Linked DNA regions of Homo sapiens: region 2 is linked to region 1. The links come from fine-mapping of genetic effects on gene expression. A gene starts in region 1. The other region holds a variant in brackets. All regions are shown on one strand. Distances are from middle to middle.

What was found. PIP is the estimated chance that this variant, and not a neighbour inherited with it, causes the effect. A credible set is the group of variants that fine-mapping cannot tell apart.
Region 2: its variant is the best candidate, but not a certain one, in a credible set for the expression of REEP2 in aorta (GTEx, PIP 0.74).

Annotation. Positions count from the first base shown.
Region 1 is chr5:138,433,234-138,442,761 of GRCh38, forward strand. REEP2 (receptor accessory protein 2) reads left to right here and starts at 5,824. Exons shown (of 8, transcript NM_001271803.2): 1 at 5,824-6,007; 2 at 7,783-7,855; 3 at 8,152-8,228. The coding sequence starts at 5,976. KDM3B (lysine demethylase 3B) reads left to right here. Exons shown (of 24, transcript NM_016604.4): 24 at 2,387-3,794. The coding sequence ends at 2,467. RefSeq lists a silencer at 5,652-6,071 and an enhancer at 6,457-6,990.
Region 2 is chr5:137,975,231-137,984,758 of GRCh38, forward strand. All of the region lies in intron 10 of FAM13B (family with sequence similarity 13 member B), which reads right to left. Among named protein-coding and RNA genes, the nearest start is that of FAM13B-AS1, 53 kb to the right of the region's middle. The variant C/T (reference allele first, on the strand shown) is at 4,938.

The DNA.
Region 1 (9,528 bases):
CTCGAGTAGCTGGGATTACAGGCACCTGCCACTGTGCCCGGCTAATTTTTGTAGTTTTTTAATAGAGACGGGGTTTCACCATCTTGGCCAGGCAGGTCTTGAACTCCTGACCTCATGATCCACCCGCCCTCGGCCTCCCAAAGTGCTGGGATTACGGATGTGAGCCACTGCGGCTGTTTTTTTTTTTTTTTTTGAGACAGTCTCACTCTGTCACCCAAATGAAAGTGCAATGGTGTGATCTTGGCTCAACTGCATCCTTCGTCTCCTGGGTTTAAGTGATTCTCCTGCCTCAGCCTCCCATGTAGCTGGGATTGCAGGCATGCACCACCATACCCAGATAATTTTTGTATTTTTTGGTAGAGACGTGGTTTCACCATTTTGGCAAGGCTGGTCTCGAACTCCCGACCTCAGGTGATCTGCCCGCCTCCACCTCCCAAAGCGCTGGAATTACAGGAGTGAGCCACTGCACCCAGCCAACCATAGTTTTTATACAAAGTATAATCAACGTTGGTGTTTGTTTATTGAGATGGAGTCCCGCTCCGTTGCCCACGCTGGAGGGCAGTGGCGTGATCTTGCCTCACTGCAGCCTCTGCCTCCTGGGTTCAAGCGATTCTCCTGCCTCAGCCTCCCGAGTATCTGGGGATTACAGGCACGTGTCATCACACCGAGCTAATTTTTGTATTTTTAGTAGAGACAGGGTTTCACCATGTTGGCCAGGCTGGTCTTGAACTCCCGACCTCAGGTGATCCACCTGCCTCGGCTTCCCAAAATGCTGAGATTACAGGCGTGAGTCACCGTGCCCGTCCAACATTGGTGTTTACATAGAATGAGAATATAAAGGTAACATGTCACCTTATCCATAACACCTTTCCCGAGCTAGGGATGTTGGGTGTGTTTCTGCAGTCCCAGCCACTCAGGAGGCTGAGGTGGGAGGATTACTTGAGCCCAGGAGTTTTGAAGCTCTCGTGACCTATGATCACCCCACTACACTCCAGCCTGGGCAACAGACTCTGTCTCTTTATTTAAAAACAACAGGCTGGGCGCGGTGGCTCACGCCTGTAATCCCAACACTTTGGGAGGCCGAGGTGGGCAGATCACAAGGTCAGGAGTTCGAGACCAGCCTGGCCAATATGGCGAAACCCCGTCTCTACTAAAAATACAAAAATTAGCCAGGCATGGTGGTGGGCGCCTGTAGTCCCAGCTACTTGGGAGGCTGAGGCTGGAGAATCGCTTGAACCCAGGAGGCGGAGGTTGCAGTGAGCTGAGATGGCGCCACTGCACTCCAGCGTGGGCAACAGTGTTAGACTCCATCTCAAAAAAAAAAAAAAAAGACCTTTCCTGACTACCCTGTTTAGAATAACAACTCCTGCTCCAGCACTACCAGTCCCACTTTCACTACTTTATTTTTCCTGTAGTATTTTCACCATCTGAGATATAGCTATAGATACAGATATAGATATATTTTTTTAATCTGTTACTTAACCCTACTAGAATGTAAGCTATTTAAGCTCTGTGAAGGCAGGAATTTTACATTTTACTCACTGCTTTTCCTTAGCACAATGTCTGACACATAGTAGGTATTCATAAATCTTTGTTGAAGCAATGCAAAAAAATTAATGGAGAATAGTAAAAGAAGGACTTGGATGCCCATGACCCAGCTTAAGAAATTATAGCACACATACATATACAGCAACTACATGGTTGAAGCCCCCATGTACCCTTCCCCTTTGCATTTCCCCGCTTTTCCTCCCCAGAAATAACCTCAGTTTTCTTGTCAGCCCTTTAAAAGAAAGCTGTCTTTATTCTCTTCACCTTAATATGCCTGTTCACTTTTTTCAATAACTTTTATTGTGTGTTCCAATTTCACAGGTAATATATCCAAATCAGAAAACATATAAGCACGAAGGGAAAAAATAGGCCATAATCCTGCTTTCCCCTCTTGTTTTAATGCATCCTTATTAGCTGTAGAACCTTAAGGAAGCCTCTTAACCATATAAGGAAACAAAGTTCTCCAGGTGTTCACTGTGGCCTTAGTTTCCGCAGTTTCTCCTCTGTAAATTGGGCATGATAATAATAGAACCTACCTCATAGGATTCTGTCAAGGATTAAGCAAAGGTCCACATAAAGAGCTCAGCAGCAGCGCCTGCCCAGGACATAGTAAGCACATAAATGATGGTGATCAGATGGCCTTTCACATAACTTCATTATTCTTTTTTGAGTACACACCTCATGCCCTATGTGATTTGTAAATGACTGTGGGGATTGATACAGGAACGCACAGTCCTTTTTGGGAGTTTCCCCACTAAACCAGTAGGCTTACAGTCAAGGTAGAACGTACATTTGCATGGGGCTGCTGTGAACTGACTTTGCTGTACACCTTCTCTAGGTGAAGAACATCATTTACCATGCAGTGAAAGATGCGGTTGGCACCCTCAAGGCTCATGAATCCAAACTGGCAAGGTCCTAGGCATGGAGAAACTCCAAGCTCCTCTGTGAAGCAGGTCTTTCACTCACAACACTTAACAGGGAACGGCAGGGCTCTTTGCTGGAGCAGAGGCCCTTCACCCAGAGCCAGTGTGGTCAGTATTCCAAACTCTCCAGCCACTCTCTTCTACGCTGCCTCAACACTGAAGGTTGACACAGGAAAGTCGTACTGTTCACACACACAGTTTGAGACTCCAAGCCAAGAGTGCCACATCCCTATCCTGTGGCCTTTTGGAAATCCAAATTGCCTGAACATGGCGGGGCTTTCCTGCACATTCTCCTGATTTGAGATTCACGGGCACACCTTTCTTTTCTTTTCCTCTTGTGCCTAGTTAAGTGGAAATGTGTTTGGAGATAGGGGAAATCACATAACTGGTACAAGTATGGGGTAATTGCTTAAACATGCCTGGTGGAAGTCTGATAGCGTCTCTGCACGTGACCTCTGACAAAGCCCATCCCAGGAGACGGGGTGAAGCTATTCCCCACACTCTCCTGTGAACACTGGAGTCTTGCAAGACCCAGGGAGAACCCACTGCTTTTCCCAGGAGGCTCCAGGATTAGGAAATGTGTGTATTTAGTGAAAAATAGGTTTGTAGTGAAATAGTTACTATTTCATGAAAGTAGATATTTTTAGAATTTTTGAAATACCACAGTTGTTTTCCTGGATTATAAGGAAAGGCACATTACATTTAGTCTTCCTTTCGATATAAAACTCTTTGAAGAAATATGATTTTTAGAAATCAGCTACCCATTATAGCACAAAATCAGCCAAAGCAGAATTTTTAAAAATTGGCTTTTTTAGGATTCTTTTTCTCCCCCTCCCATCTTAGTCTTACCTTGAGGGAACAGTCATATGAGAAGGAACTTTGTCACATCTAAGCTGTGGTGTGTTCCCCATGTGTGTGTACAACACTGGTGACTCCAGGAACCATTTTCACCTATTACCAGTGTTCCCTGGGGACTCCTCTTAATGTTTCCAAATGGGAAGGACAGTTGATTTCCAACATGAGGTTTTTTGTTTTTTATCCAGAAATATTTTCAGCAAAACTTTCCAACTGAGTGGAGTCTGATTAAGGATTTATTTGAAAATGGTGGGATTCATTGGCCCATAGGTACATTGGAAAATGTATATCTCTCCAGCTGTACTGTAGTGCCCTGCAGGCTGTTTATATGTTCACAGTTACTTTTTTTTTTTTTTTTAAATAAAAGTCATTTAATGTAGAATACTTTTAATTTCACTTTCTGTATTTTAATTTTGTTGAAGGGCTGATTGGGATTTCCATGTTCTTATTAAAAATCTAACAAATCTGTTTGGAGTGGACTAAATTATTCGTGTACCAACCCTTCTAAAATCAACATCAGATTGGGAGTTGGGTTGGAGGTGGGGGATTCATTTCCAGGTCTTCATGACTGTGCTACACCCAGATATTTTTCTTTGCTTGTTGAGACTGTGCCATGTTAGAAAAAAGGAAAGTGCCAGGGTGAGGTCAGTATGGTTTGGGGAATTGGGGGTAAGGGGAAGGGGCCACATGAATTAGAGGGTAGAAAGAGAGACATGTTTCCCCATACTTTATGCTTTGTGAATGGAGTGGGAAAGTTGGGGTCCTCCCTTCCTGTGGCAGAGTCTGGGGGGAAGGGTCATGGTGTGTGGCCTCAGCAAAGTTGGACAGTCTGTGGTGGGATTCTTAAGCAGGCAGCCTGGCTGCCTACATGAAACGTGTGGCCATAGATCCACCTTAGAGATGGTGGGAGACACTCATGTGGGATTTATCAAGCAGTAATTAAAGTGTTTCATTGTGGGGTGATAACAGACTGCATTCCAATTAGGAGATGTTTTCTGGAGAGGAAGTTGTAAAGAATAGCAAGAGGGGTTATCAGAGGCTGCTTTTCTGGAACGTTTTGGGAAACATCTTCCAAAGTGTTTGAACCTGGAAATATAATTTACCAGGTTAGAAATAGACCATTGTGTTGTTCAGGGATACTGAGCTTGAATAAGACCATGACTCTTTGAAATACACAGTTCTGAATGTGTCCTTTCAGCCCAGATGGGCACAGGTTGATGCTGTGGTCACCCGAAGGATTACAACTCAACATAAAGGGTAGAGGAATGCAGAAGCTCTAAAATGGGACAGGAAAGGAGAGCAATAGGGCTGGGGGTGTTGGTGGATGGTTGGAGGTTGGTTGCTTTCCTGAAGATCAGGAGGCAGGCTAGCCTACATTCTGGATATAAATGTCTTTAGAATCAGGACATTCACTGCCACTAGTGCTTGCTGATGGGGGTGGAACTGGAGCCCCAGGACCCTCTCGCAGCCCCTCTGTTTGAAAAGAAGGTTGACCCTTTGTTGTCAGTAACCACATTGAGAGCATAAAGCTCTGTTCCGCTGCAAAGCTTAGGAGCTGACAACCTAAAAAAGCAGACCAGCAGCCCGGTGGCTCACACCAGTGATCCCAGCACTTTGGGAGGCTGAGGCGGGTGGATCGCTTGAGCTCAGGAGTTGGAGATCAGCCTGGGCAATATTGCAAAACCCCATCTTGGCAAAAAAAAACAAAAAACAAAAAAACAGGAATTAGCTGGTGGTGTTTTGGGCCTGTAGTCCCAGCTACTCGGGAGGCTGAGGCGGGAGGATCATTCAAGCCCAGGAGGTGTGCTGAGATTGTGCCACTGCACTCCAGCCTGAGCGACAGAGTGAGGACCTGTCTCAAAAAAACAAAACATCATCTGGTCAGGGGAGATCCTCTTTCAACGGGGTGAGAAGGAGTGGGGTGGACAGGTGCGGCTGTACCTGTGACTCAGGAGCTCAGGTGGATGTCTTCAGGGCCTGTAATGAGGAGAGTTTGCTAGTCAGCAGTTGGGGGATGTAACCTGTTTAAAGTAGGCTTCCTGGGGTCATCTTAGCAGCATGACTTGGTGGCTTTGTGACTCTCAACAGATTATTGAGCCTTAAGCTTCTCATTCCCTTATCTTCAAAATGAGGGCTTTTATAGCGCCTGCCTTATAGGGTGGTCAAGAGGATTCACTGGCAACGCAGTGAAGCTCTTAGCACAGGGGCTGGCACACAGTAAGCGCCTGGTGTGGGCAGGGCAGGAGGTGGGCAGGGGTCGATTTCAGGATGTAACCATGGAGACCTCCACGACAACAGCCTAGGGCTTGAAACCCAAGAAAGATGAACAAGCGATTCGAGGAAGGCAGGGCACTGAGGGTCGGAGGCGCATGCCCGGCCACAGCAGGTGCCGGGGCGGGGGCGCGCCGCCGCCGCCGCGGCGGCCTCCCGGCCTCCCCTTTAAGAGCCGCCACCGCCCACGGCCCGCCGCTGCGGCAGGGACCTCCCCTTTAACGGCGGCGCTGGGCGCTCCGCTGCCCCCGCGGCGGCTGCTGCAGCGGCTGCTGCTGCTACTGCGGCTCCTGCTGCCGCCGCCGCCGCCGCTCGGCCTCAGGCAGCTGCATCCTCGGCCGGGCCGGGTCCCCGCCCCGCGCCGCGCCCGGCCCCGCCATGGTGTCCTGGATCATCTCTCGCCTGGTGGTGTGAGTGCGGCGGCGGCGGGGGGTGATGCGGGCTGTGATGGAGGGCGGGGGTGTTAAAGCCCGGGTGGACTTCTCCGAAGCTTCGTGCAGCAGAGTCACCTAAAGGCGCTGCGTCCTTATTTGGGGCCCCCAGAGACATGGAGATGTGGCACCCAGGACTGGAGGGGGGAATATTAGGGGAGCGTGGCAGGCCTGGCTTCCCAGGGACCTCACCCACATTCTTTATTAATAACCTCTTTTATTTCTACCGTCCTTGCTCCTGCGCCCATCCTAGAGGCTGAGCAGCACGGCTTGATTTAAAAGGGGAGGCAGGCGCGTCCCCTCCCCCACCTAGCAGGTCTGGGCTGGAGGAGATCCTCAGACCCGGGCCCTGTCCCTCTGGGGGAGGTAACAGGGTGATGGAAGAGAGTGGAGCAAGGCAGGGCCTCATCATCATTCCGCAGCTCAGAGCCATCACCAGGCCCCTTGGTCTCTCCCTTCCACTCACTGTCAGGAGACTGGGGACGAGGGCATATGCCCTTAGGCCCCCTAGGGAGGAAGTCTGGGTATCGGGAAGCAGAAATGCTCGGAGGACAAAGTGTGAGAGGTAACTGGGAGAGGGGATGTGTGTGCTCAGCCTGGGATTGTGGACCCCGCTGGGGGAGGACGCTCCGTGGCCTTCATTCCAGGCTGCCAGCCACACTGTGGAGCTGTGTCTCTGGCACCTCCCCGGGCCCCAGGAGGGAACACACACCATTCCCCACGAGCCCAGACTTTGTCCTTGAGGATTCTGCTCCGCACTCCACTTGCACCAGCCGGTTTGGAAGTATCCCTCCTGTCCATGTGGAAACAGGCGACAGCCACACATTGTCAAGGGGCTGAGCCTGACAGGGGCTCCTCGTGGTTCTCGGAGCTATCCCCTGCCCTAATGAGGACACTGCCCCTCGGCCTCCACCGTTGGGGACTGACACCGGCAGCCCCACCCTGCTCCCTTCTTCCCATTCGGTACAGCCGGGCCGGCCAAGTGCTTCTGTCCTGGTTTACTCTAGACTCCTTCTCTTCCCCCACCCATCCCAGGGGGAATGGAGGGGCCTCACGCCTCCATGTGGCCTTCAGGGTGGCTGCTTCTCTCTTGCCTGGGCAAGCCCCAAAGGGCATCGGTCCTCTTCTTTCCCGGCCTGTGTCTTGTCTGCATTCTGTACTTGGATCACCAGCGGGGCCCTCCCCTGAGCCCTGTCCCTGTGGTGTTTACATGGGGGAATAAGCCTCTTTGCCTCTCTCAGGGCCTCCTGCCCCTGTGCCCTCTGTTCCCTAGGGCCCCAGGGCCACAGTGGTACCTCTGCCTGCCAGGTAGGGTGCCCTGTTAGGTGGTGTCAGGTTCCCTCGCAGAGCCTGGCTCTGAGGGAGGTGGAGGGTAAGGGCAGATGGGTGTGAATGGGCATGAGGTCAAGAAGGAAGACACCCTGTGGCAGTGACCTGACTCCCAGTCTCCATGACATATTTGTGTGTAACCAAGGATCATGGCGCAAGGGACTACATTGGACCCTCTGGCCTCTGGGCCTTTCCCTGCCTCCGGGGCTAGAGAAAAACTGAACAGTGGAGCGGGGAGGGGGCATCACCCTACCTGGCTGGGCATGTTCCATGCTGCTTTGACCTTAACCCCTGACCTGAGTTCATCAGTCCAGCGGGGAGTTCTGTCTCTCTTCCCATTACTTACCCAGGGGCTGATGCGGAGCTGGGAGGGAGAGGCCACTGCCCTTGGCTGAGAGGCCCAGTAACCATGCCTGCCTCCCTAGGCTCATCTTTGGCACCCTGTACCCAGCCTATTCTTCCTACAAGGCCGTGAAGACAAAAAACGTGAAGGAATATGTGAGTGGATGACCCTTCACCCCCTACCCAACCCACATGGCACAGAGAGGGGAGGGCACTGGGTCCTATTACAGATGGGGGTGACTTTGCACCAACACTGTCAGCCACTAACAAGACCCACCAGCAAAGGAGGGCCCTGGGTGTCCCACACAGCGCCTCCAACATGGCTGGCAGGCAGAAGTGGGGTCCTTGGTGTTCTCCCCAGCCCAGGCATGTTCAACAGGCAGAGCTGGGGTCCTGGGTGTCCCTGGCCCCTCAGCCCCGTGCCCCAGCCAGCGCTTCCCTCTGTCCCTCAGGTGAAATGGATGATGTACTGGATCGTCTTTGCCTTCTTCACCACGGCCGAGACGCTCACGGATATAGTGCTCTCCTGGTGAGGTCCAGCGTCCCCTCCTGTATCTCAGGGCCCAGGGCCTCTGCCTTTCTCTACCCAGCCAGCCAAACAAAAGACTGGGCCTGGGGGTGAAGCTCCTCCCATTCCTGACAATTTCATGGGGTCCTTGATATCTCCCCTCTCATGCCTAACTTGACCTGCAGAAGAACAGACATAGTAGTGCCAGGCGAGGGGGCTCACACCTGTAATCCCAGCACTTTGGGAGGTCTAAGTGGGTGGATCATTTGAGGTCAGGAGTTTGAGACCAGCCTGGCCAACATGGTGAAACCCCGTCTCCACTAAAAATACAAAAAAAAAATAGCTGGGCATGGTGGCGCCCCTGTAATCCCAGCTACTAGGGAGGCTGAGGCAAGAGAATTGCTTGAACCCAGGAGGTAGAGGTTGCAGTGAGCCGAGATCGCGCCATTGCACTCCAGCCTGGGCAACAGAGTGAGACTCCGTCTCAAAAAAAAAACAAACAAACAAGGAGTAAGAACAAACATAATCCCCATGTTTCTTTCTGGCGGCAGCCAGAGCCCCTCAGTGGAATTCAGGAAACCCGCTTCTGCCATGCTGCCTGCGACCTTAGGCAGGTCACAGCTCTCGAGGCCTCAGTTTCCTTATTTGTAAAATAGGCATATGATTCACTCCTATAAATGCTGGATACTTGCATTTCCAAGGCATTTTCCAGGCTGTACTAGACTACGTATGTATGAGCACTTTGAGGACAGGGAATATGTCTTAATCATCTGTATATTCACAGCAGGAACTCAAAAATGTTTACTGAATGATCAGATACCTCTTGGAAGAGGGGACTAATAACACAGTTCATCGGAACTCAAGAAGAGAATTTTACCAAGGGGGAGAGGACAAGAGATCATTACATTTATAGATAAGACCCTTGCATTTGAGAAAAATAGTTTTAGAAGAGGAAAGAGATGGAGAGATGGGTTAAAAATTGAGGGTAAAGGCCGGGTGTGGTGGCTCACGCCTGTAATCCCAGCACTTTGGGAGGCCAAGGCAGGCAGATCACGAGGTCAGGAGATCGAGACCATCCTGGCCAACACGGTGAAACCCCGTCTCTACTAAAAATACAAAAATTAGCTAGGCATGGCAGGGCGCAGTGGCTCACACCTGTAATCCCAGCACTTTGGGAGGCCGAGGTGGGCGGATCATGAAGTCAGGAGATGGAGAGCATCCTGTCCAATACGGTGAAACCCCATCTCTACTAAAAAACAAAACACAAAAAATTAGCCGGGCGTGGTGGCGGGTGTCTGTAGTCCCAGCTACTCTGGAGGCT
Region 2 (9,528 bases), 460 kb before region 1:
ATTCCCCTCTTCTGCAACTTCTTCACCTTACTGTCACCGCTTGAAAACTTCATTCTAAATTTCTAATCCACCCAACACGCACTCTGTACCCTGGCTAACTATTTCAAAGCTATTTAGTCAATGCCCTAACCAATGTGGTCTAGTTTATGACCAGCTTTCTGTCCTCCAGACAGACAGATGCTACAATAAAATGTGTCACTTAACGTACCTTCCTAGTTGGCTCACTACAAATTCATGTCATCAAACTTCAGTTAGACCTCCATTGGTTCTCAAACATCTGGTGACTCAGTTCTGTCTGATTTCTCCCCACAGAGACTCCTGCAAAACTACCTATTTCTTCAGATCCAAACCCAATTCCTGTCTCCTCACCCTCTGCAAATGCATTTCATTTTAAAATGGTCAAAGCCATCTGAATTAAGTCCCCAAAACACCTCTCGCTTAAAAAAATATTCTATATATCCCCTTTTACTGAAGATTAAAAGTAGCCTCTCCTATTTAGGAATAGTCACTCAACTTGCACACTGAATCACCTTTCTTCCATCTCTCACTCCCAACCCCCTCTATGCAGTGTTCCCCTAACTACCCTGGGTTTTTTTTTTTCTTTCTGACATTTTTTAGTCTCTCCCTATCTAGTGAGTGATTCCTACTGACATGCTCAAATCTCCATCCTGTATCAAGAAAGCAGAAATGGGGGACGGGAGTGGGGAAGGGGGGAATATCTCTTCCACAACCAGACTGCTCAACTCTTCCTTTTTTTTTTTTTTTGAGACAGTCTTGCTCTGTTGCCCAGGCTGGAGTGCAGTGGCGCGATCTCCGCCTCCCGGGTTCATGCCATTCTGCCTCAGCCTCCCAAGTAGCTGGGACTACAGGCGCCTGCCACCACGCCTGGCTAATTTTTCGTATTTTTGTAGAGATGGGGTTTCACCATGTTAGCCAGGATGGTCTCCATCTCCTGACTTCGTGATCCACCCACCTCGGCCTCCCAAAGTGCTGGGATTACAGGCGTGAACCACCATGCCTGGCCTTCTCTTTCCTTTTAATTTCAATGCAAAACTTGTGCAAAAGGCATTCCACACACTGCAGCTTCTACCTACTCACCTGATATTCATTCTCAACCATGAAATCCTCTACCTACCAAAGCTCCTCTTTCTTTACCAATAATTTCTATCACTAAATGCAATAAATTTTCTTTAATTGGAATTTTTTGCTTAAATTATTTGATTATAAATCAGAGAAACTGTTGGAAACCTAAATATAAGAACATATGAAGAAAAGTAAAATCATCCATAACCTATCAGCCAGAAGGCCACTGTTGTTGCAGGAAGTCAGGGACCCCGAATGGAGGGACCAGCTGAAGCCATGGCAGAAGAACGTGGATTGTGAAGATTTCATGGACATTTATTAGTTCCCCAAATTAATACTTTTATAATTTCTTATGCCTGTCTTTACTGCTATCTTTGAACATAAATTGTGAAGATTTCATGGACGCTTATCACCTCCCCAATCAATACCCTTGTGATTTCCTATGCCTGTCTTTACTTTAATCTCTTAATCCCATCATTTTTGTAAACTGAGGAGGATGTATTTCGCCTCAGGACCCTGTGATGATTGTATTAACTGCACAAATTGTAGAGCAAGTGTGTTTGAACAATATGAAATCTGGGCACCTTGAAAAAAGAACAGGATAACAGCAATGTTCAGGGAACAAGAGAGATAACCTTAAACTCTGACTGCCGGTGAGCCAGGTGGAACAGTGCCATATTTCTCTTCTTTCAAAAGCAAATGGGAGAAATATCGCTGAATTCTTTTTCTCAGCAAGGAATACCCCTGAGAAAGAGAATGCACCCCTGAGGGTAGGTCTCTGAAATGGCCTCCTTGGGTGTGGCCATCTTCTATGGTCAAGACTGTAGGGATGAAATAAGCCCCAGTCTCCCATAGCGCTCCCAGGCTTATTAGGACGAGGAAATTCCCGCCTAATAAATTTTGGTCAGACCGGTTGCTCTCAAACCCTGTCTCCTGATAAGATGTTATCAATGACAACGTGTGCCTGAAACTTCATCAGCAATTTTAATTTCACCCCAGTCCTGTGGTCCTGTGATCTCGCCCTGCCTCCATTTGCCTTGTGATATTCTATTACCTTGTGAAGCATGTGATCTCTGTGACCCACACCCTATTCATACACTCCCTCTCCTTTTGAAAATCCCTAATAAAAACTTGCTGGTTTTACAGCTTGGGGGGCATCACAGAACCTACGAACATGTGATGTCTCCCCCGGATGCCCAGCTTTAAAATTTCTCTCTTTTGTACTCTGTCCCTTTATTTCTCAACCCAGCCAATGCTTAGGGAAAATAGAAAAGAACCTACATGACTATCGGGAGCAGGTTCCCTGATATCTCAAAGTGCTGGGATTACAGCTGGGATTACAGGCATGAACCACCATGCCTGGCCTTCTCTTTCCTTTTAATTTCAATGCAAAACTTGTGCAAAAGGCATTCCACACACTGCAGCTTCTACCTACTCACCTGATATTCATTCTCAACCATGAAATCCTCTACCTACCAAAGCTCCTCTTTCTTTACCAATAATTTCTATCACTAAATCCAATAAATTTTCTTTAATTATTTGATTATAAATCAGAGAAACTGTTGGAAACATAAATATAAGGACATATGAAGAAAAGTAAAATCATCCACAATCTATCAGACAGAAGGCCACTGTGAATATTCTGACTTGGCCTTTTGACTATGTGCCACACACACATGCAGTGCATGCACACAAAGAAATTGGGACTGCATTAGCTTTAGTAATCTACACTTGGTTTTGTATGTTTTGTTTTTTGTTTTTTGTTTTTTTTTCAAAATAACTTTACCTCACAACTATTACTTGGGCCTTTAAAATAATTTTAAATGACTCAACTATATCCTATGATATGGATATACTATGATTTATCTAATCATTTTCCATTTAGGACTTTTTGTGTTTCCCATTTTTTTTTCCGATGAAGAAACCCCCAGTAAGAATTCTAGTAGAAAAATCTTTGCATACACCTCTGATTTGTATGTATTTCCTTAGGAAAGAGTCCTAGATTTTGAAATTTCTGGATCAAAGGTTTAAGGTCTTTTGTTCTTACTGTTAATGTGTTTTCCAGGAAGTTTACAGCAATTTATACTTCCGATGTCTGTATAAGACCACTTACCTTAACCTACCCTCACCAGCATTAAATATATTGTTCCTGGGTATTCTTAAATTTTTTGTTCAACAGCAAAGGCAAAGAAAAAAAAAAAGCCATTTCATTAGACTTTTAACCACCCTAGCAAGCAAATAAAATTAAACTTACTCTTCTTATTTTTGTACCTTTGCCTCCCACCACCTTTTTTCCTCCTTTTACCTCTCTATTTTGACCAACTTTCAGACTCAGGAAAAAATCCCATCCTCTTTGACATTCCCAACTGCTATGGTCATGGCTGCTTTTTTTCCTCCAAAGAGCTAGAATACAGAGGTTCCCCAAGGGTTTCTTCAATCCCCGTTTATTCTATTCAAGTCACTGCTTTGGCAATGGCATTCACTCACAGACAAAATGAGCCTCCACCACCAGCCACAGCTCAAGACCTGAACATCTGCTTCATATAAACCACCTTGATATTCCAGTTCTGCAACACTGACCTCTTTTCCAATCTCTTAGTGTCTGTGTTTCTTACCCCAGTTTGCACCTAAATCTTAATCATTTTCACCTTTGGAATTTTCTCTATTTTTCCTTCCTTCCCTAGGGCTCACAGTTCAGACTTTTTTTTTTTTTTTTTGAGACAGGGTCTTACTCTTTCACCCAGGCTGGAGTGCAGTGGCATAATCTCAGCTCACTGCAACCTCCTCCTCCTGGGTTCAAGAGATTCTCCAGCCTCAGCCTCCCGAGTAGCTGGGATTACAAGCATGTGCCATCATGCCCCGCTAATTTTTGTATTTTTAGTAGAGATGCGTTTTCACCATGTTGGCCAGGCTGGTCTCGAACTCCTGACCTCAGGTGATCTGCCCACCTTGGCCTCCCAAAGTGCAAGGATTACAGGCATGAGCCACCATGCCCACCAGCTCAGATATTTTAAGTGCTCGCCAAATACAGTGCAAAAAGCCTACTGATTGTTGTTGTCCTTACCCCCAGTCTTTCCCACAAACTTTTTATGACTACTACAAAAAACCTTCTTCCTAAAATACAGATCTGGGTACATCATTCCCTCTGCTTCAAAGTTTTCTATATTTTTCTTCTACTGAGAAAATCTACAATTCTTAAGATAGTATTCCAGGCTCTACGTATGACCCAAATCTACCAATATTCCAGAATTATCTTCTACTATATATCCTCCCACAATACCCTGAGTTCTACAAGTAGCTCTGTTTCATTAACATTCAACATTACCCTGTAATCTTTACTTATACTATTCATTTTAGTTTCTTTCACAAATCTTGAACCAAATCCAGCCCTATAAAAAGCCAAGTTCAAAATCCCCCTCATTCCAAGACCTTCCATAACTACCCTGGCCAGAAGTTCTTTCCTCTCTTCTGCAAGACTATAGTGCCCTAATAGCACTAGTCATATTCTGTATTAGAAAGTATGTGCATGTACAACCTAGATTATCAAGTCATTGAAAACTTAAATCGACCAGGCACGGTGGCTCACGCCTATAATCCCAGCACTTTGGGAGGCCAAGGCGCGAGGATCACCTGAGGTCAGGAGTTTGAGACTAGCCTGATCAATAAGGAGAAATCCTGTCTCTACTAAAAAAAAAAAAAAAAAAAAAAAATTAGCCGGGCGTGGTGGCACATGCCTGTAATCCCAGGTACACAAGAGGCTGAGGCAGGAGAATCACTTGAACCTAGGAGACGGAGGTTGCACTGAGCCCACATCACACGACTGCACTCTAGCCGGGGCGACAAGAATGAAACTC[C/T]GTCTCAAGAAAAAAAAAAAAAAGAAAGAAAACTTAAATCAGGTATTTTTGCTTATACTGTCCAAGTAAACAGGTATTATTGTGTATTGCCCAACTGAACTAACTTATTCAAATAATAAGAGTATCACTGAACTTCTTAGCTGGGGTTGGGGGGAAGAAATGGTGACAGGTTTTTCAAGGCCAAGAACCCATCATTCATAAAGGTTTCCTAAAAACAATTTTAGAAAGAATTAGTTCCTGCTCTCTTTATAAAGTAATTGATACACTAATTTCTTTTTTTTTTTTTTTTTTTTGAGACAGGGTCTCACTCTGTCACCCAGGCTGCAGTGCAGTGGCACGATCTCAGCTCACTGCAACCTCCACCTCCCAGGCTCAAGCAATCCTCCCACCTAAGCCTCCCAAGTAGCTGGGACTACAGGCGTACGCCACCTAGCCTGGCTAATTTTTATTTTTGTAGAGACGGGGTTTCACCATGTTGCCCAGGCTGGCCTTGAACTCCTGGGCTCAAGCGATCCACCTGCCTCAGCCTCCCAAAGTGCTAGGATTACAGGCGTAAGCCACTGCGCCCAGCCTAATACACCAATTTCATTCAACAAATTATTTACCGAGTTGTTTACTAGCTTACTATGTGCCAGATGCTATTCTGGTCTTACATCAACAAATGCTTAATGAATACCTACTAAGTGTTCTAGATAATAGGGATGTAATAAAGAACAAAACAGACAAAAATTTCAGCCCTCATAAAGTTTTTTTTTTTTCTTCAAAGACAGGGTCTCACCGTGTCGCCCAGGCTGAACTGCAGTGGTGTGATCACCACGCACTGCAGCCTTACCTCCTGGGCTCAGGTGATCTTCCCACCTCAGCCTCCCAAGTAGCTGGGACCACAGGGGAGCACCACTACACCTGGCTATTTTTTTTTTTTTTTTTTTTTTTTTTTTTACCATTTTTGTACAGATGGGTTCTCCTCCTTACATTGCACAGGCAGGTTTCAAACTCCCAGGCTCAAATGACGCTCTCACCATGACCTCCCAAAGTGCTAGGATTACAGGCATGAGCCACTGTGAGTAGCCCCATGAAGTTTTAATCTAATAGTGGGAGACAGACAATAAACAGACTAGTAATATAAAAGAAATGGCTGGGCATGGTGCCTGATGCTTGTAATCCCAACACTTTAGGAGACTGAGGTAGGAAAATCGCTTGAGGCCAGGAGTTTGAGGTTACAGTGAGTATGATCATACCACTGCACTCCAGCCTGGGAAAGAGTGAGACCTTGTCTCTAAAAATAAAAATTAAAAGATATATAAAATAATTATAACACTATCTAAAGTGGGGAGGGGGCCAGGTGCAGTGGCTCACGCCTGTAATCCCAGCACTTTGGGAAGCTGAGGCACACAGATCACTTGAGGTCAGGAGTTTGAGACCAGCCTGGCCAACACTGTGAAACCCCGTCTCTACTAAAAATACAAAAATTAGCCGGGCGTGGTGGCACATGCCTGTAATCCCAGCTACCTGGGAGGCTGAGGCAGGAGAATGGCTTGAACCTGGGGGGCAGAGGCTGTACTGTGCCGAGACTGTGCCACTGCACTCCAGCCTGGGCAACAGAGACAGACTCCATCTCAGGAAAAAAAAAAAAAGTGCGGCGGAATGCGAAGCAGGGAAAAAGGACAAAAAGTTCAGAGACTGGAGTGGGTGGGTAAGTGGGAGGGCCTGCCATAAACAGACAGTGATGAGGAGATTTGGTAAAACTGAGGAAGTATCTGCAAGACTAGGTAAGAATGTAAGCTAAGGAGATATCCACAAATAAGCAATCCAGATAGGACTTATGATTTAGCTGTCTCAATCCTGACTATCACAGCCAATATTCCGTAGTGCCTATAGCTATATTTTGATAGCTAGAAGGCACTGGAAGGTTTTAGGAAGAGAAGTGGCATTATCTAATTTTCCTCTTAAAAGGATCATTCTGGCTCAGTGTTGAGAACATACCATCAAGAAACAAAGATGAGGAGATTAATTAGGAGGCAATATTAATCCAGGTGAGAGGATGGCAGTAGAAACAGTAAAAAGTGGTCAGACTTATCTTCTGAAGTAAGTCATAAAACCTTTGGCTGGGCGTGGTGGCTCAGGCCTATAATCCCAGCACTTTGGGAGGCCACGGCAGGCAGATCACCTGAGGTCAGGAGCTCGAGACCAGTCTGGCCAACATAGTGAAACTCTGTCTCAACTAAAAATACAAAAAATTAGCCGGGCATGGTGGCAGGCACCTGTAATCTCAGCTACTCGGGAGGCAGAGGTTGTGGTGAGCTGAGATTGTGCCACTGCTCCAGCCTGGGCAAGAAGAGCGAAACTCCATCTCAAAAACAACAACAACAACAACAACAACCTTCATTCCAGAAGTATCTACCCTATACCTGGATGAAAGGAATGCCCTTATCTCTGAATACACAGGGACATAGAAAAGAATCTGAACAAACAGGCCTTGGTTAATGAGCCGCCCTTTATTTATCATCCTCTTTGTCTAATTATTCATCCGCACCACTGTCCACTTTTCATCAAACCAAAGCATTAAAATACACAGGTGTGTCTGTTTCTGTGGGTCTTGATTTCTGAAGGTGTTCATGTCATGTAAAACTTACATTAAATAAATGTGCATGCTTTTCTCTTGTTAATGTCTTCTGTTACAGATGCCTCAGCTATGAACCTAATGATGGGTAAGGAAAGAAATCTTTCCTACTCAACAGATGCTTGGTAAAAATATACCAGTGGAAATGCTGGGTGCCTAGTTGGATATAGCAATCTAAAGTTCCAAAACAGGTCTGGACTCGAGATACAAATTTGGGAATCAGTAGCACATAGATGGTAGGTAGAGCCATTAGACTAAACAAGATTACCAAGGAAGTGAATAAAAATAAGCAATCTGAGAAATGGGCCCTGGGCCATTCCAAATTTAAGAGATTCAGAAGAGGAAGAGCAATCAGCAGAGGGGAATGAGAAAGAACAGCCAGTGTAGGTAAAAAAAAAAAAAAAAAAAAAAAAAAAAAAAAAAAAAAACCGAGTGAGATATCCTGAATGCCAAGTGAAAAAAGTATATCAAGGTAGTGGGAGTAATTAATTGAATCAAACCTTGCTGTTAGGTCAAGTAAAACATTCAACAGACATCACTGGTGACTTGCAAAAGCTATTTCAGAGGAATGAATGGTCGGAGGAAAGGATCACTGCAGTGAATTTAAGAGAGAATGGGAGGAGAAGAGTTAAAGAAAAGAGACACAGACAATTCTTCCAGCAATTCTATTTATAAAGGGAAGCAGAGAAATCAGGGTGTATGTGCTAGAATGGGATGGGGGGAGTCGAGAGAGGGTTTTTTCTGAACTTGGAAGAAATAACAGTATAAATGTTTTACACTGATGGGAATGACTAGGTAGACAGGCAGAAACTGATAATCCAGGAAAGGGCAAGAGGACAACTATAGAAGCAATAACTGAAAAGCTGTTCATCTAATACACCCAAGTCTGTGAAACTAACAGTGGCAGCTTAACTTCTTTGAAATGTCTTCTAGTTTATAAAATAATTTTATAATATGTTCACATCTTTTTATCATAATCCTCTAATATAGGTATTACCCCCACTTATTTAGAGAAAAGCAAAATGCAGTTCAGAAGTCAGGTAACTTGGCCAAAGTCACACTGATACTGAACAAAGGCAGAATACAAAACCTAAGTCTTCCTACTCTAAATTCCTCTTTAGCCCTACTTTAGTGGATGGTTTAGAATGAAAATATACTGAGGAAACCCACCTTATCTATTAATTTAGCATCTTATTTTTAAAAGTAGTATCAAAATTACATTTTGAATGTCTTAGATGCTGCTTTTTACATTTAATGGCAATTATATTAAAAAAAGTTACTAACAAATGTGACAGTGACAATAATTTAGTCATTATTACAACAATGTTCCTAGGTTTCTGCTAATCAAGAAAGGATGCCAACAGTGGAGGTTCAGAACATGCCACACCAAATTATTCCTCTTTGGCATAAGGATTATTTTCAGCTTATTATTTTCAGAAATAGCAAACACAGGATAATACAGAGAAGTTACCCTTTTATAAAAGAAATTTTCATCTGTAGTAGAAATCTCCATTTCTACGGGTGTCTCCTCTCTGTACGAGCAAGAGAAAGATGACTCTAAATCACTAAAAACTACCAATCTTGAGAGCTAACCTTAACTTTGCTTACAGTGCTTTTCCTGGTCATCTCATTACAACTAGGTCTCCCCAACACCCTTTTTTCCTTTGTTTCAGGACATGATGGTATTTAAGCCACCTCTGAGAGATTTACTCACTTCCCCCGAGTATCTCCCATGTATATATGAGGTATACATGTCTTAAAACTTGTTTTTCTCTTGTTAACCAATATTCTGTTACAGGGATCTATCCCATCCTAAGAAGTGTATGAGAATATTATATGTTCTCCCCTATACCATGTTCTTCAGCAAAACTCCTAAGAAATACGGAAGCTGTCTTAAAAATAACAAAAGTCAACCATAATACCACCTAGCTACCTCTGCTGACATCATGATTTCTAGGAAAATAATTTAAA